Homo sapiens: one gene and its partners. The protein of the gene in region 3 purifies or fractionates together with the protein of the main gene of each other region. This does not show direct contact. Each region holds a gene or a part of one and is shown on either strand. Other genes may lie near its edges.

What was found.
Region 1: the proteins of MXD1 (region 3) and ARID4A purify together in Homo sapiens (affinity purification with mass spectrometry; 3 studies listed by BioGRID and IntAct, with this or other methods). This does not show direct contact.
Region 2: the proteins of MXD1 (region 3) and BRMS1L purify together in Homo sapiens (affinity purification with mass spectrometry; 3 studies listed by BioGRID and IntAct, with this or other methods). This does not show direct contact.
Region 4: the proteins of MXD1 (region 3) and SAP30L purify together in Homo sapiens (affinity purification with mass spectrometry; 3 studies listed by BioGRID and IntAct, with this or other methods). This does not show direct contact.

The regions. Positions count from the first base shown.
Region 1 is NC_000014.9:58,294,679-58,301,567, reverse strand, and holds the start of ARID4A (AT-rich interactive domain-containing protein 4A), read right to left. Parts: upstream 3,014-6,889; 5' UTR 2,868-3,013; intron 2,378-2,867; exon of another isoform or gene 1,877-2,377; intron 1,771-1,876; 5' UTR 1,714-1,770; coding exon 1,708-1,713; intron 1-1,707.
Region 2 is NC_000014.9:35,821,806-35,829,358, reverse strand, and holds the start of BRMS1L (breast cancer metastasis-suppressor 1-like protein), read right to left. Parts: upstream 3,022-7,553; 5' UTR 2,843-3,021; coding exon 2,701-2,842; intron 2,485-2,700; exon of another isoform or gene 2,320-2,484; intron 1-2,319. UniProt on the Homo sapiens protein: Involved in the histone deacetylase (HDAC1)-dependent transcriptional repression activity. When overexpressed in lung cancer cell line that lacks p53/TP53 expression, inhibits cell growth.
Region 3 is NC_000002.12:69,910,660-69,918,118, reverse strand, and holds the start of MXD1 (max dimerization protein 1), read right to left. Parts: upstream 3,011-7,459; 5' UTR 2,789-3,010; coding exon 2,716-2,788; intron 1,999-2,715; coding exon 1,899-1,998; intron 1-1,898. UniProt on the Homo sapiens protein: Component of a transcriptional repressor complex together with MAX. In complex with MAX binds to the core DNA sequence 5'-CAC[GA]TG-3'. Antagonizes MYC transcriptional activity by competing with MYC for MAX binding.
Region 4 is NC_000005.10:154,448,979-154,456,002, forward strand, and holds part of SAP30L (histone deacetylase complex subunit SAP30L), read left to right. Parts: intron 1-2,112; coding exon 2,113-2,235; intron 2,236-3,477; coding exon of another isoform or gene 3,478-3,495; exon of another isoform or gene 3,496-3,521; intron 3,522-4,423; coding exon 4,424-4,522; intron 4,523-6,921; coding exon 6,922-7,024.

The DNA of each region.
Region 1 (6,889 bases), on a different chromosome or scaffold from region 3:
ACATAAAACTGTGAATGTCATTACTATGCCTCCCTACTCCAACCTCAAGTCTCATTAAAAGGTTGTGTTTGAAGCATTAAGAATATTAAAATGACTTGCTTATTAATATCATTGAAAATTTGAAAAATACCCTAAATACTTGATTAGCAACCTTTCATTTTATAGACTGATGTCCTGATATGATAAAATGTTTTAAAGTTGTAATTCAAAATTATCAGTGATTAATAATGTTTTGTCTCGATACAAAATTTTTCAAAAATTCTACTATTATATAAGCAGAAAGATAAGAAAAAAACAGAAAAAATATTTCATATTACACATATCATAAAACTAAGTTATTCATTTATAGCTTCCTGAAATTTTTCAAATTAAAAGAAATATTGCTACTAATATTAACACTAACAATACATAATTGTTTATTGACATAGCCACATAAAGGTAACATCTTTTCATAAGGAAAGTATCATTTGGAAAATTCATTTGCTAAAAGCTGCACTTGAAAGGTTTTAAGTCTGAATTCAGCCGATGAATGCAGATATGAACTGATGGCTCCAGACTTGTAGGTATACCTAGTTTACCACACTAATCTTCTTAGTATAAAAAAATAAGCGTTACTAAGAAACATCTACTTTCAGCAAATGGACACGACCAGAATGATACATAGAAAGATGTAAGAAATGTCACTCTACCACTCATTTTAATTTTTACAGTAACAGGATGATTGCTATCTCAATCTGTCATTTTACCTTTTTTTTTTTTTTCCGGAAGTTAAAGTGTATCCATACAAGTTCAACTTAACATTGTTAAGTGCAAAGTTAACAGTGTACACTTTGGAGATACGTTTTGAAGTAGAAAATGATTTTTTGTTTTCTAATAAGTTTTCCCAAGTAATATTAAAGAAGGTTAAATATGTCATTTACTTCGAGAAAATAGAAAACCACGAGAAAGTTTGGGAAAATGCTATATTTCAGAGCTTAATATGCTGAAACAGTAAATAAGACAGGAATTGGGTACCTTTTAAAGTAAGTGCATTTACAAAAAATACAAATTGAATAGGAATGCTTTTGGCAAACAAAAATCTGACCTGAAACATTCAATGGCCACAGCATTCAAGAACGCTATATGAGATCCTTTCCCTTTAACCATCCACATACTGATATTTGCAGTCATCCTCAGTAGAATATGTATCTTTTTAGTATATGTTTTAAAATACTTATTGGAAAGATTTAACTAAAACTATTATTATACTTCAACTTCAAATATTTTAGCCACATAAGTTCATTTTACACACAGAAGAAATGATACCTTCATTACTTAATCCACGTATTCTTTCTTTTAGAAAATCGCATTGGCACACGGGAAGAAAAAAAATTTACAAAAAATCCCCCAAAGAACCAAAGCAGGACAAAAGCTTTACTTCTGCAAAGGTTGCTGCCAACACAGGAAGTGTTTAAAAATACTATCCGAATGGACAACAATTGAAAGGCTGCACCAGCCTTTCCAAAGTACTGCTACAGAGAGGGCCTAAACTCCGCATTTAGACACACAGATCATTTTTCACCCATTCAACACATCCTCCTATGCCGAAACTGCTGATCAGTAGGAACATCAATTTTGAGTAGCAAAACAAATGACATTCCACGGCACTAGCCTTAGGATTGGCAGTGTTCAGGGCGCGAGGATCGGGGCAGAGTTGACTCCACTTACCTTCATTTTTGTTGGTGATCTGTGGGGTTCCAGCTCAGCGAGCTATCTTCGCAGTCGCTAGAACTATGGGGAGGGGGAAAGACAGGCACAGACATAATCAGTCAACTGCGGGGAGCGACCAAGGGAAAGAAAGTAAACAAACGCCAGCGGGGAGGGGCAGAATCCTCACCAGCCAAGGGACAAGACCCCTTACGAGGGCAGCCAGGACGCAGGAGCTGAGGGGGCAGCGAGAACCCCACGAGCGCCAAAGGGCAGCCCGTTCCGCCCCGGAGCTCGCCAGCGGCCCACCGCGCCCCCGCCTCGCTGGCCACTTTGACCCGGAATGCTCAACTCGGAGCTCCAGGACAGATAGCTCCGGAAAAGGCCAGAGCTCCCTTCGGGCTTCCCCAGGTCCCCCGCGGAGACGACCGCCGAGCCTCCGCTCCGCGGTCCCCCGGATACCCCGACTTCGGCCCGCGCCCCGCCTCCGCCGCTCGGCCCCCTCGGCCCGCCCCGGGCCCGCGGTGGCGGCAGCGGAGTGTCACGGCGCCATTGCTCTCCTTCCTTCGCTCTGCACCATGTCAGAAAGGAGAAGCGCTCCTTCACCCAAAGGGGCAGGGGCCGCGGCCTTCAGCCGGGAGCCGCCAGAGCCCCGGGGGACCCGCGTGGGGGAGGGGGCGGGGGGCGGAGGGGAGGAGGAGGGGAGGTGGCCCGGACAGGGTGTGGGAGGGGAGGGGAGCCGCACCGCAGCAGCCGCTGCCTCCTCCCAGCGCCCGCCTCAACTTTTTGTACAGCCCAGAGAGGTATCAGCTCGTAGCCCCTCGAGTCCTGCCACGGACTCCGCAGAGGTGGACGCGCCGCGGAGTTGGGGGACGGCTCCCCCAAGCAGCCCGCTCTTCACCGCGCGGAAGCAAACTTAGCGGCGCGGCCAGCCCCACAGCCATTTTCCCGGGAACCCGAGGAAGCGGACGAGGAGGCGGCTGCAACTGCGGCGGCGGTTCCTGCAGTTGCTGCCGCTGGTCAATGGCTGGCCCCTTCCCTTGCGCTCGCCGTGCCACTTGCCTAGCATCCCTCTCCCCACCTCCAAAGCTTCCAACTGCACCGGGACCTCGGGCAGCAGCAGCTGCTGCTACTGCCACTTCGTCCATTCAGTATCCCCGGATTCCCCTCTCCCCACCTACCAACTGCGGGTGAAGTGCGCGCTGTCAGCTCCAGAGTCCTCCTCCCCTCTGACCTCCGTGGGCCCCCGTCCGGGCAGCACCACTCCCAGCCGCGGCTGCAGTTCCTGCGCCGGGTTCCCCACTCGCCCCGATTTACTGCCACAATCCACCAAATAACAAGCTGTTGAGCAGACTCGCTTCTACACGAACTCCTATTGGCTGCTCATGACGCCGAAGAGCTTCGGATAGGACCTCGCTACCTGCCGTCCTCATTGGATGTAGCTGTGAAACTTCATGGATTGGTGAGAAAAACAGCAGGTAGGACATCTTCCACTTATGATTGGCTTTTTCCGAAAACCAACTTTATTGGAGAGTTGGTTATTGAGTAAGCAAGTCCTGAGAAATGATTGGTAGAGACGACTCCGGATGTGCTTGACTGGGCACTGATTGGTGAATTGAGGGGTCAGGAAGAGCAGTTCGACACGAGGATTGGCGGCGGAGTGTCCCATGGAAACGGAACCCAGAATTGCAGCCAGGGGCTTGCACGGGGGCGGGGCAGGGTCTGTCCAAGGCGCTTGCGCTAAACCAGCTTGTCGGCGCCATTTTGTCTCGGCAGCGGTGGCCGTAGCTCCATCGCATTTTATGTTTCTGGCGAGAAGGGAACGGAGTTTTCATCAGGTAGATTGGTTTTTGTGCGGCCGTCCTCCACCGTTTCCTCCAGGACAGCACCTAGTCGTGGCCGGAGGAGTCTCAGAGCTGTCAGAAAGGTCAGTTGGAGGCTATGGTTGTCCGATTGACTGGGGGGATGGCGCAGCCCTAGCGGCACCGGCACCGGAAGTGAAGGGGCCGCAGGCAGCCATGGTAAACTTCTCCCTGCGGCGGGGTGGGGAGAAGGGGCGGGATGAATGGGGGCGAGGCTTCCTCTCCCGCCGAGATAAAGAGGTGGAGGAGAGGCAAACGTCTTTCTTGGAGGTTCTCTTTCGGGTTTTCGAGAATGTGAGAGATTTTCTGGGTTCTGTCCCACTGCAATCTTTCCTGTCTTTGGAAGTGCATTTCGGGGACTTGCCATGTTCTCCACCTGATTGGCACCAGCTGTGGGAGCCTTCTTAGTTAAGACAGGGAAGAAGTGGTTCTTAGAAACATCCTGCATGGGTAGAGGTTTCCGCGTGCTCCTCACGGGATAAAGCTATGAGGAAACTGGAGAAAGCGCTGGCTTTCTGGATGCTGAGGAATTTACTTGCCAGCGCAGACGCTTCTTCTGTGACCTTAGACAAGGGTCTGTCACTCTGCACGAGGCTTATGCTACTTTTTGAAAGCAAACAGTGGTTTTGCAGGGACTGAAAACATCTTAGACAAAAGGACGTCCCCGATAAGATAGACGTTGATCTTTTTCTGTTAACATCTTATATTCTGTTAAACGAAACACACATTTTTAAATAGCGGAATTGGAGTATAAAATTGACTAGTTTTATAGAATGGAGTAATTTTTAAAATGTGACATATCGTCAGTAATCCACGTGGACTAAATTTTCTCAGTAAGAAAACAGCCGAGCAGAATCAGTTTTTTATTCGTAACAGTAATTTTGCTCAAAAGTATTCATAAAAACGTGAAATGCATGTTGGCATTTCTAGTGAGTGACCTAGTCACACTGGATAGATCCTAATAGTTACCCTCAATACCTCTGTTTTAAACCCTACTGCTATATTGGTGGCGCCCATAACTAGAAAATGATTGTGTGACTTAACAATTACTGGGTTTTTTGGCAGTTGTGCTGAAGAAAACAGAACATCTCAGTGATTACTGAGGTGAGTCATAAAGTCTAAAAATCCTTAGAATTGCGGGGGACTACCTGGAAAAACTTTCTATGGATTAGTAAAGAAATACCAGAATGGGAGGAAGGGTAGTTAAAAGATGTTTTGTTTGGTCAGATTCAAATGAGTCTGTATAATTAGCTTTCTAGTGTAATATTTTAGAATGAAATCCCAAAATTAGGACATCCTTATGGACTTGTTTACCCATTTACGTGGTTCTCATTTCTGGACTTTGATATACCTCATGTTTTTGTTATAAAACATTATGCGTATTTTTGTGATTTCCTCCCCCCCACCCGCCTATTTAAAAAGTTCTTATATAGAAAAGATCTTGTAAATGGGAGTGTTTAGGAGTGAGGCTTTTTTTTTTTTTTTTTTTTTTTTTTTGGAGACAGAGTCTCTCTCTGTCATCGAGGCTGGAGTGCAGTGGCGCAATCTCGTAGGAGTGAAGCAGTTTTTTAAAAGACCTTATAAAACAATATATTACTGAATTTTCTAGGGGGTAAGCATCCATAATTCTACGATCAAAGTTTAAACTGTTATTATTGAATCCAAATAATGCATGGACATTTGGAAATTATTAAAAAGCCCAAAGAAGAATACAAAAATGTCTTCCCTCCTCCAAAAGGTAGTTACGGTTTACACTATAGTTATATATTATACAAAAGGCTTTGTCTTTTTTGTTGGTTTTGTTTTACCAAATATTCTAGTGTTGTTCATTACCGTCTATTCTTTATAGAAAACATTGGGAATATTGGAAATATCTTATCGTAAAGCATCTTTTATGTCTTCATAGTGTTTTGTGGGATAAATATATCATAATTTATGTAACGTGTTTATTTTTCTATAATGGCAGTAATATGTCAGTGAATATCCTTGTACATGTTTTGCAAAATATTGTGTCTAAGAAGGTCGTTGCAAAAGTAATCGTGGTTTTTGCATTATTGGAATTTGCCATTTGATGTTGGACTACGTTGTTAAATAAATGTGGTTATGTTATACATCATTTTAATGGGCATTTCTCGCTTTGTTCTTTTGGTAATGACTTATTACTCTCTGTTTATTTCATGTTTATTTTATTTTATTTTTGAGACAGAGTCACGCTCTGTCGCCAGGCTGAAGTCAGTGGCACCATCTCGGCTCACTACAACCTCTGCCTCCCAGGTTCAAGCAATTCTTCTGCCTCAGCCTCCCGAGTAGCTGGGACTACAGGCGCGTGCCACCACACCAGCTAATTTTTTGTATTTTTAATAGAGCCAAGGGGCTTCACCATGTTAGCCATGGTGGTCTCGATCTCCTGACCTCATGATCTGCCTGCCTCGGCCTCGTAAAGTGGTGGGATTACGGGCATGAGCCACGTGCCCAGCCTTCATGTGTATTTTAGACAATGAAAATGATGTTAGACAAAAAAGCAAATTCGAGCAGTTTTCGTTTTTGAGTTAAAAATGGGTTGTAAAACAACAGAGACACCATATCAGCAATGCATATGGTTCAGGAACTGTTAACTTACAGTGCAGTGGTGATTCAAGAAGTTTTTTTGTTGTTGTTGTTTGAGATGGAATCTTGCTCTTTCAGGCTAGAGTGCAGTGGCATGATCTTGGCTCACTGCAACCTCTGCCTCCTGGGTTCAAGCCATTCTGCCTCAGCCTCCCCAGTAGCTGGGATTACAGGCACGCACCACCATGCTCAGCTAATTTTTGTATTTTTAGTAGAGATGGAGTTTCACCATCTTGGCCCAGGCTGGTCTCGAACTCCTGACCTCGTGATCCGCCCGCCTTGGCCTCCCAAAGTGCTGGGATTACAGGCTTGAGCCGCTGTGCCTGGCAGTTTCAAGAAATTTTGCAAAGGGAAGGAAAGTCTTGAAAATCAGGAGCGTAGTGGCTGGTCGCCAGAAGTTGATAACTACCGGTTAAGAGCAATCAGCAAAGCTGATCCTCTTAAGGCTACTTGAGATGTTGCCGAAGAACTCAATGTGGACCATTCTACAGTCCTTCAGCATTTGAAGCAAATTAAAAAGTGAAAAAGCTCGATAAGTGGGTGCCTCATGAACTGACCGAAAAAAAAAGTCATTGTTTTGAAGTGTCCTTATCCCTTATTTTTTGCAACAACAAACCATTTCTTGGTCAGATTGTGATGTGCGAGAAAAAGTGGATTTTATACAACAACTGGTGATGGCCAGCTCAGTAGATGGACTGAGAAGATTCTCCAAAGCACTTACCAAAGCCAAACTT
Region 2 (7,553 bases), on a different chromosome or scaffold from region 3:
AATTATAGGGGGAGAATTTTAACAAATAGAATTTTATGAGATCCTTGCTCCTATCATAAATGCAAGAACATCTGAAGACAAAATACTTTATAGATCTAAGAAACATATTCACCAACAGGCCAGGTGCAGTGGCTCCCGCCTGTAATCCCAGCACTTTGGGAGGCAGAGTCGGGTGGATCACTTGAAGTCAGGAGTTCAAGACCAGCCTGGCCAACGTGGCAAAACCCCATCTCTACTAAAAACACAAAAATTAGCCGGGTGTGTTGGAGGATGCCTGTAATCCCAGCTACTCAGGAGGCTGAGGCTGGAGAATCTAATCCAGGAGGCAGAGGTTGCAGCGAGCCAAGATCGTGCCACTGCACTCCAGCCTGGGTGACAGAGCAAGACTGTCTCAAAAAAAAGAAAAAAAAAAAAGAAATATATTCCCATACAGTCTCCTTTCTCTATATTCCCCGCTTTTGAAATCTCACCTACTTTCATGGCAAGGCAGATGACTTACAAATTATTCTCCCCTTCCCATATCGGGCAGGTTCCAATGTCACATTTCCATTTGTCAGTTGGGCAATCTTAAGCATACTGCCATCACTCCAAAAGCAACACGTCGGCCAGGCACGGTGGCTCACACCTATAATCCTAACACTTGGGGAGGCCGAGGCAGGCAGATCACCTGAGGTCAGGAGTTCAAGACCATCCTGGCCAACATGGTGAAACACAAAAATTATCTGAGCGTGGCGGCGCATGCCTGTAATCCCAGCTACTCGGGAGGCTGAGGCAGGAGAATTGCTTGTACCCTGGAGGTGGAGGTTGCAGTGAGCCAAGATGATGCCATTGCACTCCAGCCTGGGTGCCAAGAGCAAAACTCCTTCTCAAAAAAAAAAAAAAAAAAAGGCTGGGAATGGTAGCTCATGCCTGTAATCCCAGCACATTGGGAGGTTGAAGTGGGTGGATCACGAGGTCAGGAGTTCGAGACCAGCCTGGACAACATGGAGAAACCCTGTCTCTACTAAAAATACAAAAAATTAGCTTGGTGTGGTGGCACCCGCCTATAATCACAGCTACTCGGGAGGCTAAGGCAGGAGAATTGCTTGAACCCAGGAGGCGGAGGTTGCAGTGAGCCAAGATCACGCCATTACACTCCAGCCTGGGCAACAGAGCGAGACTCCATCTCAAAGAGAGAAAAGAAAAAAAAAAGCAACATGTCTGAAATACTCTTTTCTTTCACCTTCATCTCAAATCTTTCACTTTTCTATTTCTGTTGATGCTACCGCCACTCTCCTTGTATCTTGGTTTTTCTCTTACCTTCAATCCTAAACTTGCATTCATCAATCCTGTTTTGTGCTTTCTTTGAAATCACTCACATCTATACTTTCCTGTTCTTTTCCGAGCTCAACTCCTTCTCCCAAGGTTTTCACGCTCTTTTGAATAAGCCCCAAACTCTGGCCCTTGTACTTTTTCTTACATCCCTCTCCCTGCAGGGATACCCACCACCCCAAACCAAATTCTACTCATTCTTCAAGATAATTAAGGTAATCCCACCTTCTTCAGCTAGGCTTTGTGACCACCCAATATTGAAACGATTTCCTCTGCCTCTGAATTCCTACAGCAACATTTAGTTAAGCATTCATTTGGCAATTTAATCAAGTGGTGACTTATGATAGCTTTTTAAGTGAGCCCAGATAATAACTATTTATCCCTCATATTGAGTACTGTCCAGTGCTGCACAAAGAAGTCACTCATAAATATTTTTGGATGGCTGATTTACTGATTGAAATTATATCCTTCCATGGAGATTTGCTTTGCAAGGGAAACATGAAAAGAGGGCATCTGGGTGATACTAGGCTGTCATCAACCTATCATCAATGCTTCCTTTACATGACCAAAATCAGGCCAAGACAAAGAAGTCAGTCTCATCTCCATCATTTGAATCGAAAGAAAATAATCCCGGTAATCACAAATTCCATTTCACTTTAGAATAACCATTCCTAAAAGTTTGCAAAATTTATTTGTAGTGTTAATCTGCCCTCCTCCCCCACCCAAAATAATTTAAAACAGCCCAAAGTTAGAAAAAACTGAAGGGAAGAAAAGACTTGGAGAATTTTCAACGCTGCCAAAACTCAGCCAATTTATAAGCATATGAAGATCCAAAATGAGCCCGAATGTTGGTCCCTTCCTCTCAGTCTTGCAAACTTCAGGGAGCTACTGAACGGGACCGCTCTCAAGTTAGCCCCCGAAAAGACACTGATGTAAAAGTGCTGACCGGCAAGTTGACTTGCAAACTGAGGTTAATTACTAAGCCGACCCTCTGTCCCGGCAACTCACTTGCGCTGAGAAGTGAGGGTTGCAAAGGTGAAAATAGGGAAAGAGGTCGGTGGGCTGGGGAGAGGAGGCATTTCCAGTTTGTCTGCTGCGGGAAGTTGTCCGCCTGGGCTGGTCGCTCCAGAGCACCACCGGGGGCAGGACCACGCCGCGTTTGGGAGCTGGACAAGCCCAGGCCCGCCCCGCCCCGCCGCCGGGACCCATCAGGAGCCAGACAGCGCCCAGCGACCGGTCAGGGTGCAGCCCAGGGCCCAGAGCCAGTCTCCGCCCCTTCCCTCTGTCCCCGCCCCGCTTTCCCAGCAGGACGCAGCCGCCTGGCGTGCGGAGAGCGGCCTGTCGCGCGCTGGGCGCGGGGACTCAGGGTCCCAGCAGTGGGTCGCGCACCTGAGCTATCTCCATCCTCGGAGACCGACGAGCTCTCAGTGTCCTCGTCCTCGGAGCTGCTCCCCTCATTTTCGGCGTAGTCCACCTCCATCTCATCGTGATGGTTGGTCTCCTTCTTATCCCCTCGGGAATGGACTGGCATTTTCCAGCCGCGCCGTCGCTTTCCACTACCGGCGCCCAGCCCGGCCACCGCCGCTTCAATGAAGGGCGCGCGGAACGCCCCAACCCACCCAGCCACCGAGCTTGCTCGCCCCCTTGGCTCCTCCCCGCCCCCGGCCCGGGCCTCACAACCTAACCCGCAGGCTCTGCGATGGGAGCTCTGCCATTGGCGGAGGCCTTCCACCGAGCCAGAGGGCGGGGGCTTGCCCTGCTCTGGTACGATTGGTTGCCCGCAATTACGACGCGGCCTTCCGATGCTTGCCGGGAGTTGTAGTTCGTAGGTCTCAGACCTGCAGGGGCTGCACGCTTCCATCCCTCGGCAGCCCTGATCACTTCTTCCTTCTGGACTTCAAGTCCCACAAGGCACGAAAGCTGACACTCTGGATCGCAGTTTATAAACTAAACAGAAACAGATTGTGCGAATTTAGTCTGTATTTATCTATTTCCCGCCAAGTGATTGTTTGACCTGCCTGACCATCAGAGATGTTACTGTTAGATGTGAAAATGTCTTTTGCCTAAAAGGATCTTTGCCTGCTCATTGAGCCTGGGGAACTGGAGAACCATCTGTTTTACTAAGCACCTTTATTACCTACCATTAATAAACTGTTTTATTTAATTATTAACTATAGACGATAACTTGCACTTTCTGTGTTGTGCAAAAATCTTTAAATTATTCTTGAAACTTTTACAATACAGAAGGTAAGGAAGTTTTATCTTGGCATTTTCAATCTAATATTTTTGGCATTTATTTTTTACCAAATGCAGTCGGAAAATGCCATCAGTCCTGATTTAACTTTAGTTTTCAATGAAAAATACATACTTAACCAGATGTACTTTCTCAAAAAAAGGGTACATAGCTCCCTCTCCCTCTCCCTCGCCCTCGCCCTCGCCCTCGCCCTCTCCACGGTCTCCCTCTCCCTCTCTTTCCACGGTCTCCCACTGATGCCGAGCCGAAGCTGGACTGTACTGCTGCCATCTCGGCTCACTGCAACCTCCCTGCCTGATTCTCCTGCCTCAGCCTGCCGAGTGCCTGCGATTGCAGGCGCGTGCCGCCACGCCTGACTGGTTTTCGTATTTTTTTGGTGGAGACGGTTTCGCTGTGTTGGCCGGGCTGGTCTCCAGCTCCTAACCGCGAATGATCCGCCAGCCCCGACCTCCCGAGGTGCCGGGATTGCAGACGGAGTCTCGTTCACTCAGTGCTCAATGGTGCCCAGGCTGGAGTGCAGTGGCGTGATCTCGGCTCGCTACAACCACCTCCCAGCCGCCTGCCTTGGCCTCCCAAAGAGCCGAGATTGCAGCCTCTGCCCGGCCGCCACCCCGTCTGGGAAGTGAGGAGCGTCTCTGCCTGGCCGCCCATCGTCTGGGATGTGAGGAGCCCCTCTACCTGGCTGCCCAGTCTGGAAAGTGAGGAGCGTCTCTGCCCGGCCGCCATCCCATCTAGGAAGTGAGGAGCGTCTCTGCCTGGCAGCCCATCGTCTGGGATGTGGGGAGCACCTCTGCCCCGCCGCCCCGTCTGGGATGTGAGGAGCGCCTCTGCCCAGCCGCGACCCCGTCTGGGAGGTGAGGAGCGTCTCTGCCCGGCCACCCCGTCTGAGAAGTGAGGAGACCCTCTGCCCGGCAACCGCCCCGTCTGAGAAGTGAGGAGCCCCTCCGCCCGGCAGCCGCCCCGTCTGAGAAGTGAGGAGCCCCTCCGTCCGGCAGCCACCCCGTCTGGGAAGTGAAGAGCGTCTCCGCCCGGCAGCCACCCCGTCCGGGAGGGAGGTGGGGGTCAGCCCCCGCCAGGCCAGCCTCCCGGACGGGAGGGAGGTGGGGGGGTCAGCGCCCCGCCCGGCCAGCCGCCCCTTCCGGGAGGGAGGTGGGGGGGTCAGCGCCCCGCCCGGCCAGCCGCCCCTTCTGGGAGGGAGGTTGGGGGTCAGCCCCCTGCCCGGCCAGCCGCCCCGCCCGGGAGGTGAGGGGCGCCTCTGCCCGGCCGCCCCTACTGGGAAGTGAGGAGCCCCTCTGCCCGGCCACCACCCCGTCTGGGAGGTGTGCCCAACAGCTCATTGAGAACGGGCCAGGATGACAATGGCGGCTTTGTGGAATAGAAAGGCGGGAAAGGTGGGGAAAAGATTGAGAAATCGGATGGTTGCCGTGTCTGTGTAGAAAGAAGTAGACATGGGAGACTTGTCATTTTGTTCTGTACTAAGAAAACTTCTTCTGCCTTGGGATCCTGTTGATCTGTGACCTTACCCCCAACCCTGTGCTCTCTGAAACATGTGCTGTGTCCACTCAGGGTTAAATGGATTAAGGTCGGTGCAAGATGTGCTTTGTTAAACAGATGCTTGAAGGCAGCATGCTCGTTAAGAGTCATCACCACTCCCTAATCTCAGGTACCCAGGGACACAAACACTGCGGAAGGCCGCAGGGTCCTCTGCCTAGGAAAACCAGAGACCTTTGTTCACTTGTTTATCTGCTGACCTTCCCTCCACTATTGTCCTATGACCCTGCCAAATCCCCCTCTGCGAGAAACACCCAAGAATGATCAATAAAAATAAATAAATAAATAAATAAATAAATAAAGGGTACATAGACAAGGAAGCCTCAATAGGTATCATAACTCATTAAGTGACCATTTATCCTCTGTATCAGGTATCTTGGTAAGCCCTTTACATGGGTTTAGTGAGTTTAATTCTCAATTTAATAGCCCTGAGTTAGGTGCCATTGTTATTCCCATTTTACGGATAAGGAAACTTCATTTGCAGACCAATCTTAAAACTATATTTTACCCCTTATAACGACAGGGTTTCTTCTTCTTGAAGTGGCAATTTGCTATTGAAAGATAGTACAGGCCGGCAGGGTGGCTAACGCCTGTAGTCCCCACACTTTAGGAGGCCGAGGCGAGTGGATCACTTGAGGTCAGGAGTTCAAGACCAGCCTGGCCAATATGGTGAAACCCAATCTCCAGAGGCTGAGGTGAGAGAATTGCTTGAACTTGAGAGGTCAAGATTGCAGTGAGCCGACATTGCACCACTGCACTCCAGCCTGGGTGACAGAGTGAGACCCTGTCTCCTGTCTCAAAGAGAAAAAAAAAAAAGTTCATAGAATATTGTGGATTGTATAGCATTGCATTCTCAAAGACAAGGTCCAAAAATATGCAGTTAAATTTGCAATTTTATTTAATTATCTATCTATTTAGAGACAAGATCTCGTTCTATCGCCCAAGCTGGAGTGCAATAGCAACCTCAAACTTCTGGGCACAAGCGATCATCTCGCCTCAGCCTTCCAAACACCTGAGACCACAGGCACATGCCACCATGCCCAGCTAATATTTTCGTTTTTTTTTAGTGACAGGGTCTAGCCCAGGCTGGTCTCGAACTCTAGTCTCAAGCAATCTGTCCACCTAAGCCTCCCAAAAGCACTGAGATTCCCAGATGTGAGCCACTGTACCCAACCTAGATTTGTAATTTAATGACAGAAAACCTTTTAAGTGCTACCTATCTCTTACAGAGTAAAATACAAAATAAGGGATGTGTATTATATTTAGTGTCAGCCTACTTCTCCCTTTCTCATTTTACAGTATTGTCCAAAATTGAACTCCTTACAGTTTCTAAACACACAAGCTGTTTCCCATTTCAGTGTCTTTGCACATTCTATTTCCTTTACAACCCTGTTCCTCTCCTTTTCTTTTTCAAAGCCACTTTTTAGACAACACATATCACCGTCAGCACCTCTACCATTCAGGGCACTCCTGTTCCTTCAGTTGACTGCTGTATTTTGAAATTTGCAAGTTTATACTTGTTCCTATGACAATATATTGTAAACTGTTTAGCAAATGCGTCTCACCTATTGGATTATGAGTTCCTTGAGAGCAGAGGTTGTCTTAAGCTGAAATGCAAGTGCAAAGGCATGCAGTAGTCAGGCAGGTCAAGTTAAAAGATGTAAGCTTTACATGAGTGGTACGGATTAAAGGGGGCAGCTGCATTTGGCCCCAGCCAATTGTTACTACCTGAGAATTTTGGCCTACCGATGTCAGACCTTCTGATTTCAAAGAGAAACCGGAAATTTGGATCTCTATGTGAAATATCTAGAACTATAAACATTATCTCAAGTGATGTTTTTTGTTTTGTTTTGTTTGTGTTCTTTAAACTTCAGATCAAACAAAAACAGCTGTGGGTAAAATCCCTGGCCTCTAAATATCAGCAGCTATCAGAGTGTGTGCTAAATCGTAACAATTAGATTTCTGGTCACTCAATGTGCCAAGTGTGTTATGTGCTTTAAGTACATTAATTCACTGAATCCTCATAACAATCCTATGAAGTCGATACTATTATGCCCTCCATTTTATAGATGAAAAAACCGAGGCACAGAGCAGTTAGAGTACTTGGCCAAAGTCACATAGCTACTACGTAACAGATCTAAGATTTGAACTTGGGTAGTCTGACATAAAAATCTGTGTGCAACCACTGGCATACAGTGCGCCTCTAGTGGTTGCTTTCTGTTTCTGCTGTTCCAGGAAAAACAGGAAAGGTGGAAAGGAGGAGGCATGGGTTCTAGCCTTGTTCTCCTAGTAACCAACTGATAAAATTTGGCAAACCACATAATCTCTGATCCGTTGTAAAATAAGAAGTTTGCAGTGTGTTAACTTTAAATTCTCTTCCAGCTCTAAAATTCCTGTCATCATTAAGTTTAATTTTAAGGCAGACAGAATAATAGGA
Region 3 (7,459 bases):
AGCTGCTTTCTCCATTATGATTGCTTGTTCCTCAGAAAAGGAGCTATTCCAAATGAGTCATGAAGGAAATGATCACACTGAAAGAAAACTGCCTGCTCTTGCCTCACACGTTTGGCTGGTGCTACCTCTAGGTTTAATCATGGTCTCTCAGAAATCCTTACACCACTGAATATATTACACTAACTCACTATCAGTCAGGTGTATGGACAACTGTGATAATCCCGTCTCTAACCATGGAAAGCAAACCAACCCATTAACAGAAGGATTTGTAGCCTTTATTTTTTTTTTTTTGGCATAGTACTGATTATTAAAGAGAAGATACTAGAAAGAATCCATTTCTTGGCTTAAGATTCTTAACTACTATTATTTTTCTTTCCTAATCACCTTTTGGGACCAAGCCACTTCAACATCTCATTTTCTTATCCCCACTAGTGAACATCCCCTACAACCTTCCTGTGAAACTAAGGAAAAAAACAAAGTGTTAAGGTATTAAGCCTCAATAAGTAACTTGGACAATTCCTCTCAAATCATTAGTGGACAATAATAAAAGCAAAAATGGATGATGCTTTTCCAGAAAAATTAACTGAAAGGCCTCAAAATTCTTCTAAACAAAATTAAAAAAATATTGTAACAAAATGCAACACAGCTTAATTGGTTTTACACCATTGCATATTACAAGTCAGTATTAACATCTTTCTTAAAGTGCCTTCATACCCATGCACAAAACTACTGGCTACCACCTTCAGGTAATGCTAAGGTGGGAGGACAAGCAAAACCTACCAGGTAATTACCAGGTTGATCCTTCAAGTGCCATTTTTATTCAAGGGCATGGCACAAGTAATGCTGCTCACATCCTGTGGTTCCACTAACGATACTAAAGAGGTAAACCAAGTACAGAAGACGCAGCAAGAACAAGTGATTTTTAGGTTTAAGTGGGAAATTCCTGGTCTGTATTAAGCCACAGAGGATATCCAAATAGATACTTGCAAGGAGTTATTCATGAGGGTGAGGGAGGGATAAGGATTCTAAACTAGTGACGAAAAGGTCAATGCTTTTAATTTACTGGCAGGAAAGGTATAGTTGAAGGGATCTAATAGAACAAATTTCCTAGCCAACTATATTTTAAGGGCAAAGAAGGGGGGAAACGGGCAGCAACATTGATGGACTATTTGCATGTACCAGAAACTATGCATAGGACTTTAATATGTGATTTAACTGACCATGAACCAAATCTCCAGTGAGATTCACAGCTTTTAAGAACTACGGTATAAGATAATCGATAAGGCTAACATGGAAAAGTTGTAGCATATTAATATTTTGGTATTATATATTCCTCTATCACTAAAGAGGTAGGTTTTAACCTCAATCATTCCTCTTTGCCATTACAAATAGAGATGACAAATTAGAGTATCAAACAAACCACTGTATTTAATTTACATGTCAAGTATGAGATCCTATCACTTATGCCAAGTCAGGTACTTTAATGTGTTTATAAAATCATTACTATGAAAAGTAAAAGAAATGGATAATGTCCAGCATTTTGACTTATAGAAAACTTGCCCTGAATCTGCAACTTCTGAAGGGAAAATACTGTCACCATTGCTAATCTCACTTGAAGCTTCCACAGATTTTTTTGTTCCAAAAGGGAAGAAAAGTGAAATTAAATTTTGAATAAAGTTCATAAAGAAATGTAAAACATTTCTATTTTTCTTTTCAGTTCCCTCAACCCAAACAGAAACAGCTTCCTGCAATGGCTTAAGTCCATGTGTACATTACTGAATCATGACGGCCACAATGTAATTTTATAGGGTTATAATCACAACAGAAAACTTACATTCAGCAGTTTGTGTCACCTACAATATAATCTAAAAGACAGAAAGAAGTATTTACCAAATTACCTGCTACTGCTGTTATTCTTTTTGGATTTGTTCCTCCGTTTTAAGGCATCTCTGTCCTTGTTATTGTATGGTAACATGGAGGCATAACCATGTTCAGCTTCTAGAAAACAGGAGGATCCAGTTAATGAATGGGCCCAGAATATTTAATGCTCTCTCCTCTCTACAGTATTTCCTTTTTCCTTTATTTATCTTTAAAAGAATATTGTGGAAATAATTAAATGGAGTAAGGTGGAATTCTGAGAACAATGATTTAAAAAAAAATTGTGTGAATATCGTCAATTCGGAGCAGGTGTAAGGAGGATTCCAGCTGCTCATTGTTGAGAAAGACACAGTAGTGGCTAGGCTCACGCAGCCTGGGTTTCCCACTGGCTACATCCAGCAGGTTGGTGCGGGTTAAGTGGAACCAGCTCAGGCGAAGGTGCGGGGCAAGCACCGTGAGCCGGGGACCGGGAGGCGCTGCTCCTCTGCCCAGGAGACTGGGGCGCCGGGCCCACCTGGGGGCCGGCCGGGACCAGCCCGGGTGAGGTAAACCAGGGAGGCTATCGGAGGGGGCCCCGGCCACCCACTCGTGAAGGGCTGGGGAAGGGGCGGCGTTCGGGACCCCGGCGGGCGGCAGCCCCTTCTCCACCCCATTCATTGCTTTGGGGCAGCGGCGGCTTCCCTTCGGACCGCGCGTGGGGAGAGCCAGAGGGGTTGGGAGCGCTCGCGGTCTCCCCGCCTCCAACCACCCCCGGAGCGGCTGGGCGCCCGGACCTGAGGCCGGCCCCACAGGACCCCCGGCCTCGTTTCGAGTGGACCCCTCCCCGTCCCCGTGCACCTCTCTCCCGCCGCTCCAGATAGTCGGCCGCCTCCAGCAGCATCTGGATGTTCATCCGAACCGCCGCCGCCATTCTGCACCGGGGGCCGGAGCCACGGGACCAACCCCCACTGCCCACGGGCTCGCTGCCGCCGCCGGACCGCTGTGGAGCCCGCTATGGAGCCCGCTGTGGAGCCCGCTGTGGACCCCGCGGAGCAGGGCTGAGGGAGCCTCTCTGGCAACCACGCTCGACAAGAGAGGGAGGGGGCCAGTGAGCTGGGCACCGCCGACACAGTGACAGAACCCGGAGCAGAGCAGCAGCCGCCACCGCCGCGGAGTGTTTATCCCCGACTCACCATCTCCCCGCCCCCAGCCCCTTCTCTTGACAGGCCAGCTTCGGCCGCGTTCCTCATTGGGCCCCCCAAAGAATGCCCCGCCCCTACACTTGTGCGATTGGGAGAGGGCTTCAGGGCTCCACCCCGCAAAGTCCGCTCCTCTCGCTGGTTGGTCACACTTGACAAGGCCCGGGCTCCACCCCCTCTTTCCAACTGGTGACAGGATTCGCAACTCCGCCTCGTGCTCCTTCCTTGTTTCCCATTGGTTCTATACCAACAACCCGGGCCCCCTTTTGCTTTGTTAGTATTGGCCAAGAGCTGCAGAAGGCAAGCACCTCGCCGGTCTCCCATTGGTGAAGCCTTCGGAAACCTCCCAGCTACGATGATGTCACCTTTCTCCAGGCCAGGCGAGCCCTAAGTGGCTGATGGTCAGCAGCCTGGCTGCTCCTCACCGGGTCTGGCATTGGCTGGGAGGGCCGGTCCGGCGCTGGGCGGCGCTGATTCACCAGCCGCTGCGGAGCTCTGCTCCACCCGGCCTTGCCTCGGACCTGTTGCCAAGACCTGTCCCCGGGGAAAACTTCCGGGGACCTGCCAGGCGTCCATCGAATGGAAGGCTGGCACCTCGTGTCGCCTGGGCGCTCTGCCCCGCTTGGGTTCGGGGCCGGAGCCCTCGGTCTGGTGGCCGCGGCCCTGGAGGTTCTGGGCTTCGCGGAACTCGGGCTGGCGAGGGCCCAGCCTCGAATCCTCCCGAAGAGCGGTGCAGGCTAGTGGCCGGTGAGCCGGGAGCTAGGGCAGGCGCCACGTGGCTGCTGCGGGGCTTGAGAAGAAAAGCCGGCCGTTGTTAAATGCTCGCCGCTCGGCGTTTTTTCTGCCCTCAAGAAAGAGCTGGAATCGGGCTGCAGTATACAGCATTGAGCTCATGCGCCTTTTCCGCACCCCCCTCCACCCCCGGGAAGTGATGGAATAATTAATTACTTTCACGCGAGCGGCTTTTTAAAGCTCAGAGACTTCCTGAACCTACAGAATGGCATTAAACCCTAAGATTCTTTGCTTAAATCTCTTTTGGGGTTTTCCCCTCCCTTTTAATTCTAGATGAAAACACTCACAAGATTATTGTTTTTGTTTGTTTGTTTTGAAAGGGAGTTTTGCTCTTGTCGCCCAGGCTGGAGTGCAATGGCGCGATCTCGGCTCACTGCAACCTCCTTCTCCCGGGTTCAAGCGATTCTCCTGCCTCAACCTTCTGAGTAGCTGGGATTACAGGTGCCCACCACCACGCCCGGCTAATTTTTGTATTTTTAGTAGAGACGGGGTTTCACCATGTTGGCCAGGCTGGTCTCGAACTCTTGACCTCAGGTGATCCACCCACCTCAGCCTCCCAAAGTGCTGGGATTACAGGCGTGAGCCACCGCACCCGGCCAAGAATACTCTTTAAGACGTCTGCAAATTGTGTGTTTCCGCATGGGGTGGTACCAATATAAATGCTTAATAGAATGTTACGTATACAGAACTAAAAAGGTTAAAGATCGGTCCCTAAACCTATTAAAATTTTTGAAATGAAAGCTATCTGGCAAACCAAGCTACACTGCCAATGTACTGACAGACATCTCCAATTTTAAAAGTAGAAATAAAGTTCTTGGTAGGTTGAGTCCCCAAAATACAAATGAGTAAAGCATGAACATATTTCTTTTTTTAAAAGTTTATTATTGTTGCCAATATATAATAGCTTACTATGTGTAGGTATCCTACCTACATTATCTCTAATCCTCAATATAACCCCATGAGGTAGGTTGTGTTAATTACATTTTGCACGTGAAGAAACTGAGGCCCAGGGAGGCTAAATGATTTTCCCTGTCATGCATTCAGCTGCAGACATGGAAACTGAACCTATGTATGTCTCACCCAGAGCCCAAATTACCAATCCTCCTGTTGGTAGTTGTATAAAGACAAGGTGGTTTAAACAGATTTCCAGACTGAGTCACAAAACACTGACAACTCAAGTACTGAAGAAAAAGAAAGACAAAGGTGTAAATGTAATTATGGTGGGAAATATTAAACATGTATTTTTTAATGTCCACAAACCCACTAAAATTAAATCAACTCAATAAATAGAATAAACATGTAGTAAATCATGCCTGACATATAGGCATATTCTGGTTTCAGTGGTTAACTGGATCTAAAAACTGATTCTTTATGAAAATACTAATGAAATACACATACTGAAGGTAAAGGTTTTCAAAGCACAATACAAAGTTGGAAATGAAGGTAGAAATATAACAGTTTTTTTTCTCCATATCAGACAGGTAATGTACTAACGCTGTAACAAGCTCTTTGGGAGGCACATCTCATACATGCAATGGGAACACCTAATTACTATGTTTATGAACTATAAAAGGATCTAAGTTTTAAAAGAGTATTTTTAAATTGGATGTTATTTGTAAAACAAACTTCAAAATCATAAACGAGTGCAATTCTACTAAAGTACCCAAAGTGATAATACTAAAAATGCTTTGATTTCATTATCCTGACATTTTGGATTTTGTATATATTTATATTTTCTCTTTAATTTTATTACAAACATTTGGCATATGTCTTTAGTCTCTTACTCTCAACTCTTTATTTTAACCAAGTCCTATTTCAGTATCATGACCCTTCCTCTACAATCACCCTGACCAGAAAGTCACACTTATTTTTGTCTTAAAAAGGGGGAAAAAAGGTTGAAATCTGAGCCAGAAACAGCAAATAATTTAAATGCCAACAAGTCTAGCTTAGACTCCAAACAAAAATACTACATTATATAAAAATTAGAGAATCAGCTGAAGAATAGACCATGTTCGTTCCTTGGTGGTGGATGAAATTATCAATTAGCCAGCAACACCAACTAGGGATTAGTATAATGAAGACCTTCAAAGGGTGTTTGGTGCCATCTACTGGAAATGAAGTAGTAAGTATAAAACAAAGGTTTTGAGATTCGGAGTTTTCCTAGAAATTATTTTACACAGATGTATGGAATGACCAGTTAATTAAGAAAACCTGAAAGTATAAGTTTTGAAGAAAGAACTGAGAATCCTAAGATAATGAAGAAGTGGTGACTTTCAATACCTAGTGCCTCAAAGGCATGGCCTAAGCATTGACTGACTGAGAGTCACAGCTCCAGAAATAGAAGCTGGGAATTCTAGAATGTTTGAACCAGAATTTTATGACCAGAACTTTAAATAAAAAGTTATGTGTAATAGCATAAACATGGGATGACAATAGTTTATATCTTTGAGCACATATCAAGATAAACTAATTGAGATATATACTTGAAAATGGGGAATTACAAAGACATAAAATATTAGACTTGTCAGATAATCTTTACTGCCAAGTTAATCTCTGCCCAGTCTCCTCTGGGAGGCTTATACTCCAGATGGGCATAGGACAGTATATTAAGAGGTAAATGCCAATACTGAGCAAGCAGCAGGCTCATCACACACTATGGAGTTCTCTGCCGGAGATGCCGCTTCAGAGAGCACCCCAGAGTGGCAGGGAAGAAAACTGTTACCGTATTATAATCCTGAAGTGCCTAAAAAGTTCTATCACTATGGGAATTAAAGCCCCCTATTTATAACTGAGTTTGATACCTCCTAACTACTATGACATTAAAATATATTTTGTCTTATAAGGTTTTGAGGAATTGATTTTGTTCCTCGAAGCAGATAAATCAGGATTTCAAGTTTCTGGTTCAACAGTATCATCTCTTTCTTTGTGGCTATTTTGGACACACTAATATGATACCTAACATCATAATATTAAATTTTAAAAACCTTTAAAAACACTGTTTTGCAAAAATTAGTCACTCTACAAATCTGTGATTTAGAAAATGAGGCAACAGCCAGGGGCCGTGGCTCATGCCTGTAATCTCAACACTTTGGGAGGCTGAAATGGGAGGATCACTTGAGCTCAGGAGTTTGAGACCAGACTGGGCAACATAGTGAGAACTCACCTCTACTCAAAAAATAAATTAGCTGGGTGTGGTGGTGCAGCCTGTAGTCCCAGCTACTTGGGAGGCTGAAGCAAGAGGACTGCTTGAGCCCAGGAAGTTGATGCTCCAGTGAGCATAATTGCACCACACAGCACTCCAGCCAGAGCAGGTAAACAAACAAACAAACAAAAAGGCAATGGCTAAATTGTCATATGTATATCACACAAAACACTATGCAGCAGCTTTTTAAAAGGTAGATTTATATATACTGTCAAGAAAAGATCCCTAAGGCACAGTGTTGAGTAAATAGATTGTAAAATAACCCTTACAGCATTTTCTTTTTAAAGGCCCAAACTATGTATTTTCCCAATTTCCTACTCTGCTATATACATACAGGCATGGACAAAAGATACAAAGCAAAGGATTAGCAGAAAGAATGGGCAATATCATTCTGAGTACTGTTCGAAAG
Region 4 (7,024 bases), on a different chromosome or scaffold from region 3:
AAAAAAAAAACTAGAGCCTTTGCTACCACCCTCCTGCCCCAACCCCACTCCCAAAGGCCACTGAGCTCTGAAATTTCTGAAAACCAGTATGTACTTGAAAATGGTTAAGGAGAAAATGATTATTTATCTTGTAAGAGAGTCTAGCAGAGAACCTTTTTAAATAACAACACCAGAAATTCAATTCAGGCTGTTTAACTCATTTTATATAGACTTTGGCAGTGTTCTGTGATCTGTTAAAATACTAATATACCTCCAGTTGACATATTTCTGCTTTTTTTTTCCTGGAGAAAAGTGGAAGTTGAGAATAGTATAAAGGAAAATGCTGGAGTAGGAAAAGACATGTACTGGGGGGGCAGAAGGCCTGGGTGACCTTGGCCAGGTCATTTCCTCACTCTGGATGGCTTCATTTTACCCATTTAGAAAACGGATTGGGGTCAATGGGATTGCACTAGTGATTGCTAAGTTCTCTTACAGCTAGGATTCCGTTATTCTATTGTCCTGATCTGAAATCTCCCAGCCAAAGCTTTAGGAAGCCACCTATTCTCCCTGTTCTCCTATGAAGTTTGTTACTGTGAACTTGAGGAGCAGTTGATCTGAGTGGACTCGCCAGTCTAGCTAACATGGAGGGCTAGCTTCCTCTCAGGGATGCAGAGTGTGCTTTGTTGTGCTTTCTTCCTGGAGAAAAGCATGTCCAGTAGTATATACATCAGCTAGGTGGGATTCTTTGGGACAGTGGCATGTGCTGTGTTTGAAAGTCCTTTGACAGAGTTGAATCTGACAAAGCTATCCCAGTTTGTAACCATGTTAAGTGGTGGCTTTCATTAGCCTTAAGCCACTTTTAGATATAGGAGACTTCCTATATTGGTACATCAACATTTTTCGAGTACCTCCTGTCTGCAAGACACCATCACAGTATAAACTTAAAAGTACTTATGACTCACTAATCCAGCCACATGAAAGTGATCATTCATCTGAATAAATAAATAAACAGTTTTCATTATTTTCTCCATGAAAAGGTCTGAATTAATTGATGCGGATTTCCTGCCAGCTTACTTTTATCTTTAAGGATTTAAGGAATAAACTCAAATTCAGAAGTCTCTGCAGAACATTTGTGCAACAGCTGTTTCAGTATCAACAACCCCAAGTCATTTGCTGGGCATTCAGTTTCTGTAAAGTTTTTCAGTGGTTCCTCCAGCCAGCCTTGGAGGATTCTTCATGTCTTAGCTGTTGCTGCCACCTTCACTTACCAGTGTGCCTCCAGCCTGTATTAGAAAATCTGTAGTATCCACCTTCTTGTATGTGGTTCTACCTTGTAAGAACTTCCACATCTTTTTCCACTTTTCTTTGTGGATCAGATGTGAGATAATGCAAGAATTATAAATTGACACATAGAAACAAAGTTTTTCAAAGAGTTATTATCCTACAATAGTAGCTATTGTAATTGTAAAAATAGAGTGTCCCAAATACCGTTGCAACAGTCCCTTGTGTCCTGCTTTCCTCCTCCCCAGGACAGTACATTCCAGTCGACTATAAGTTTATGACTCCTACAGGTCTTCTAAAAATGTCACATCACTTCCTGCTTCCTTGAGGGACTCTGTCTTGTCGGAAGGAAAGTCTAAGCTGTTCTCATGCCCACCCCCCTGATGCCTCACTTTTTCATTATGCTCCTACATGGGCAGCCATCATCACCCAACTGACACTGTACCCTGGGCCTCCTCACTCTTTCTGTCATCCTCCATTGGAAACTCTAAAGTCTTGGCACTCCTACCCATCTGGAATGCTTCCTGTCTGCCTAAAGTCCTCCCTTTTAGTCAGGGCCCTTCACCCTGAGCATCTCTGTTGCAGGGATCTCTTCCTTTGCTGAATCTGTACCATTTACTGTCTTCACCATTCACTGGAAGTTTGGTGTATGATACGCTGCCAAGTGTGATGTTAGCATTCTCTTTGTGTTCTGCAACTCAGTAGTGAGCTTCTGGGAATGATGGCCTACATCTTGTCTTCCATCTATCTCTCCAATGCCCTGCAATGGAAGGAAGCCCCGCAATTCGACAGATACCTATTGCTGTCTCCAAGGAATTGGCCAACTCTGACTTTGATTTTTGTCTCCATCAGGTAAGGCACCTATATATCTGTGATTTTCACAAAAATTTCATCCAGAGTGTCCGAAATAAAAGGAAGAGGAAGACAAGTGACGATGGCGGAGATTCTCCCGAGCACGACACTGACATTCCTGAGGTAAAGGTCAAAGAAACCAGTTGCGGAAGCTGGAAGAATGGATTCTAATCTGATTCTCACCTCTGGCCTGGTCTGCTTTTTGTGTTAAGAAGTAATTTTAGTCCTTTTGTTTTGCTGTGGATTATTTGAAAAGTGAATTATAGTAATATGGAATCTGAGAGCTAAAAGCTTGGACACCCACTGGTCAGACTGCCCCATCATTTTACAGACAGGCACAGAGAGCCGAGGTCATGTATATAGTTTGGAGGCTCTAGTCTAGGGCCCTTTCCAGTAGACCACACTGCTTTTCTGCAAGACGCCCCTGACGAATGCGTAAATACAACCACAGTGTCACTTTTTTTTAAACCTTGTTTATGCCTTTAGAGAGTGTATAATGGTTTGGGAGAAGTCTTTTCCCCAAAAAATGAAGGTGTAAGTCATCAGTTCATACCAGCTCTGATTTTCTCTCACTGATTTCTTGACATCTAGTCCAGGCTGTTCCCAAGGATCCATTTCAAAGTTGACTAAACTGGACCCGGTTTTCTCAACTCTAGCACTGTTGACATTTGGGGTCAGCTAATTTTTGTTGTGGGGACTGTCCTCTGCATTGTAGGATATTTAACAGCATGCCTCAGCAGCATCCCCTCGTGAGATTCTACCCATCACCACCCTGAGTCATGACAATCAAAACGTGTCTCCAGACATTGCCACACCTCCTTTACAAGACAAAATCGTCCTGTGTTGAGAACCACTGCGCTAGACCATGAGACCTAGGCTTCTCAAACTGGAAGGCTGCCTTCCCTTCAGGTGCCCGTGTCTATTAAGTGAGGCTTCAGGAAGGAATATTGGATTTTCTTTCTACTAAATTGTTTTCACTCAAGACTCAGCAAGAGAAGAACCGTTTATAGTGTACATTGAATATTTGACACATGAATATTTCATAAGGCAACCGCCTGTTAGCACTCAGAGTGAAAATGACTGTGTAGGAATAGAAAGAGTAGGCGGGCCTTTGTCTGCAGATGTGGAGGAAACCGTTGAAAATCTGGCCCTTTCCCTCTGCCCCTCCCTGTGTCCCCTTTTCCAATGTTGGTTTACAGAATCTTGCTTTTGCCTTTAACGTTATTGTTATTTTACAAAGAAATGGACGTATTCGATTTCTAAGTGGTTTTCACCAAAAAAAAAAAAAAAAAGGTTTTGAGGAATGTTTTGAAAAAGAATGAAGGACTTTGGCCCCTCATATTGATCATTCATTTTGTTTTTAAGTGCTCTCCACCTGCCTGAAGCAAGAACAGCTCTTTTAGAGGCAGGTAAAGGCAGCCCAACTTTATGGGCCTTCAATTTTTCATGACTATGCAGCTTTCCTCTCTTCCTTTGTTAGAAACAAAAAGGGGGGGTCCCTTCCCCTCTGTTATCCAGTCATCTGCAAAGACCCCAGCCCTAACCTGCTGGATTGCACATTCACTACAGTAACTTTTGAACTTTCTCTGGAGGGAGGTTAAGGATTCTAATACCAGAAGGCTGGGCCTAGCAAAGAGCTATTTGAGGATAACAGCCCTCCTTTGTGCTCCTCTATCCGGTCGCTGCCTCGTTCTGGCCTATCATCCTCCAGGATGTCTCTGGTTTTTGCCTTTGCTCTCCATCTTTGGTGTCCCTTCTAGCATCACTGCCCCTCCAAAGCTCAGCCTCTTCATCTCATTCTGATTGTTGCTATAGCATCTCCCTCCGTATCCCCCCATCAGTCTTCCCAACAACCACCACCAGACCCATCCTGCGCCATCGCCCTCCACCCTCTGTGATAGCTCCTTCTGTTTTTCTGGATGTGCTACCATCCATTCTCACCTTTTAAATTCATCACAGTTGCCTGTGACCCCCTTGCCCATCTGTGCCTCTCCCAGCTCTCTGTGCTGTGATCTTTTCCCCTATTCCCTACCGTTTCTCAGTGCTTTATCAGACCCTGCTCCTCCTTAGCTTAAGCTTTACCTTTTCCACCAGTTTTGTGAGATCAGCCCACCCCAGCCAGAACTGTTTTTCTACTGTTATTTTTGCCCTCCTAGCCAGTTACTAGTCCTCAATAGACCATTTCTAAGACCTCTTTTGAAGCCCTCCCCATCCTCACCCCTACCTTAGTGTAGTGCTAGGCACATAGTGGGCTCTTGGTGAGTCCTGGGTGGTCAGGTGATGGATAACATTTTTCTCCTCTTCTCCCTAGGTTGATCTGTTCCAGCTGCAGGTGAACACCCTACGACGTTATAAACGACACTACAAGTTGCAGACCAGACCAGGCTTCAATAAGGCCCAGTTAGCAGAAGTAGGTAGACAAAATTGCCCTCTAAAGAGAGCCAGCATTGTGCTGCTTCTGATGGTTACCCTGATTCTCCCTTACCTTGTGTGTCTGCTAATTGTAATTTCCTCCAGAGTTCTGGAAGCAACTCTGTATTCCTCTTTGGCAATTTAGAACCCCACAGCTTTAGACCTGCAAAGGCCTCAGTTCCAGAAAAGAAACCATGGCACAGAAAGAGGAAAGGATTTGCTTAAAATCACACAGCAAGTTGATAGCAGAATTGAGCCTGGGATCTCATGACTCCAGATTCTAAGTCCTGAGTGTTCATTTGTTTGAATCTTTTTTGGAAGATTCCTCTTTTTGTTTTTTTGGAGACAAGATTTTGCTTTATCACCCAGGCTAGAGTGCAGTGGCTCAGTCTGGGCTGACTGCAGCCCCAACCTCCCAGCTTCAAGTGATCCTTCCCACCTCAGCCTCCAGAGTAGCTAGGACCACAGGTGCACACCCCTATGCACAGCTAATTTTATTTTTATAGAGATGCAGCCTCACTATGTTGCTCAAGTGATTCTCTTTGGCTCAAGCCATCCTTCCACCTCAGCCTCCCAAAGTGCTGAGATTACAGGCGTGAGCCACTGTGCCTGGCTTAGCAAAATGCTTTTTAGATATGATCATTTTGTGTGTCAGATTAATCATTTCAAAACCTTGATGTTCTACAGGAGCTATTTTTTTTTCCTTGATTTCTCCTACTCTGGTGTTGGTAATGACAGTATTTTAATGAATGGCACCCAAGAAAGTTTTCTCCTGCCCTGAGTTATTAACACAGTTTGGATTACGGGGAAATGCTCCACTGGCCATTTTTAAAATACATGAACTGCCTGGCTTGATAATTCTGTCTTTGTCATTTCTGCAGGTATTTTCTAATCCCTCTTTTCTTAATATATTTTTCTGCCTATTACAGAAAAGTTGGAAAATGGAGAAAAGAAAAATATAATTCTATCATCCAGAGATAACCACTCTTTATGTCTAGTTCTCTGTCTTTTTTTATCTGTTTCAGCCACCTTGATCCATTGAGATTTCCTGAAAGGCTTCCAGCCTGTTTCATTTTTGGTTTTTCCTTTAGAGGTTTCTTGCTCGACCGTCACTTTTTCTTAAACAACTCCTTCACCAGTGTCCAGATGACACACAGGAGGTCAGAAGCCTCTCCTACTTTAAAATAACATCACCCATTTGCCAGTGTTCTCCCTGGTGGAAGGGAAAGAATGAGGTGGGGCAAGAGGAGACCTGCATTCTCATTACTTATGGAATGAAGTATTAGGAGCATTAGTAAATGATGCATTTTCCTTCAAACCTGATATGTCTTTCAGGAGGCAGTTATGCACTACTTAGAAGAATTTTGGGGTTCAGATGCCTCTGTTCAATTTGTTCAATTGGCTGTTCATTTAACACAATTTTTTTTTTTTTTTAAAGACAGAGTCTTGCTCTATCTCCCAGGCTGGAGTGCATTGCTATGATCTCAGCTCACCACAGCCTCCACCTCCCGGGTTCAAGTGATTCTTCTCCATGTTTCCCGAGTGGCTGGGATTACAGGTGCCTGTCACCACACCCGGCTAATCTTTGTATTTTTAGTAGAGGCTGGGTTTCACCATGTTGGCCAGGCTGGTCTCGGACTCCTGACTTCAGGTGATCTGCCTGCCTTGGCCTCCCAAAGTGCTAGGATTACAGGTGTGAGCCACCATCCCCAGCCTAACCCAATTTTTATTTGTTTTTGAGACAAGGTCTTGCTCTGTCTCCTAGGCTGGGGTGCAGTCACAGCTCACTGCAGCTTCAACCTCCTGGGCTCAAGTGATCCTCCCACCTCAGCCTCCTGAGTAGCTGGGACCACAGGTGCATGCTACGACACCTGGCTAATTTTTTGGTAGAGATGAGTTCTCCACTGTGTTGCCTAGGCTGGTCTCGAACTCCTGGCCTCAACTAATCCTCCCACCTTAACCTCCCAAAGCATTGGGATTATAGGTGTGAGCCACCACGCCTGCCCCACAATTTTTTAAAGACACATTTCTTCCCACTTTCAAGGCCTGAGAGGTTTGGTAGCAGCTGGCCAACCAGAGCAGTCCCAGTCTCTCCTCCATGAGTATGACTGTGAAATCATGCCATGACAGGTGGTTGGCTGCCACTGAAATAGAACTGCACCTTGGAAGAGTTGTAGGTTAAAAAGCCACTTTTGGATCCTGGAAATTAAACCACCTACATCCCTGGGGAGGAAGGGCAAAGGGCACTCTGAGTTCCGCACATGGCAGGAAGTTCTTCAGCATTTGTCATTCCCGCCACAGCATGCAAACAACTCCATTCGCTTCTTTGTACAATGTAGAATTTGCGGTGTGATTTGTGCATGGTTTAAGGAACTTTGGTATTTTCCCCCCACATAGACTGTGAGTCGACACTTCAGGAACATACCTGTGAATGAAAAAGAGACCCTTGCCTACTTCATCTACATGGTGAAGAGTAACAAGAGTAGACTGGACCAGAAAT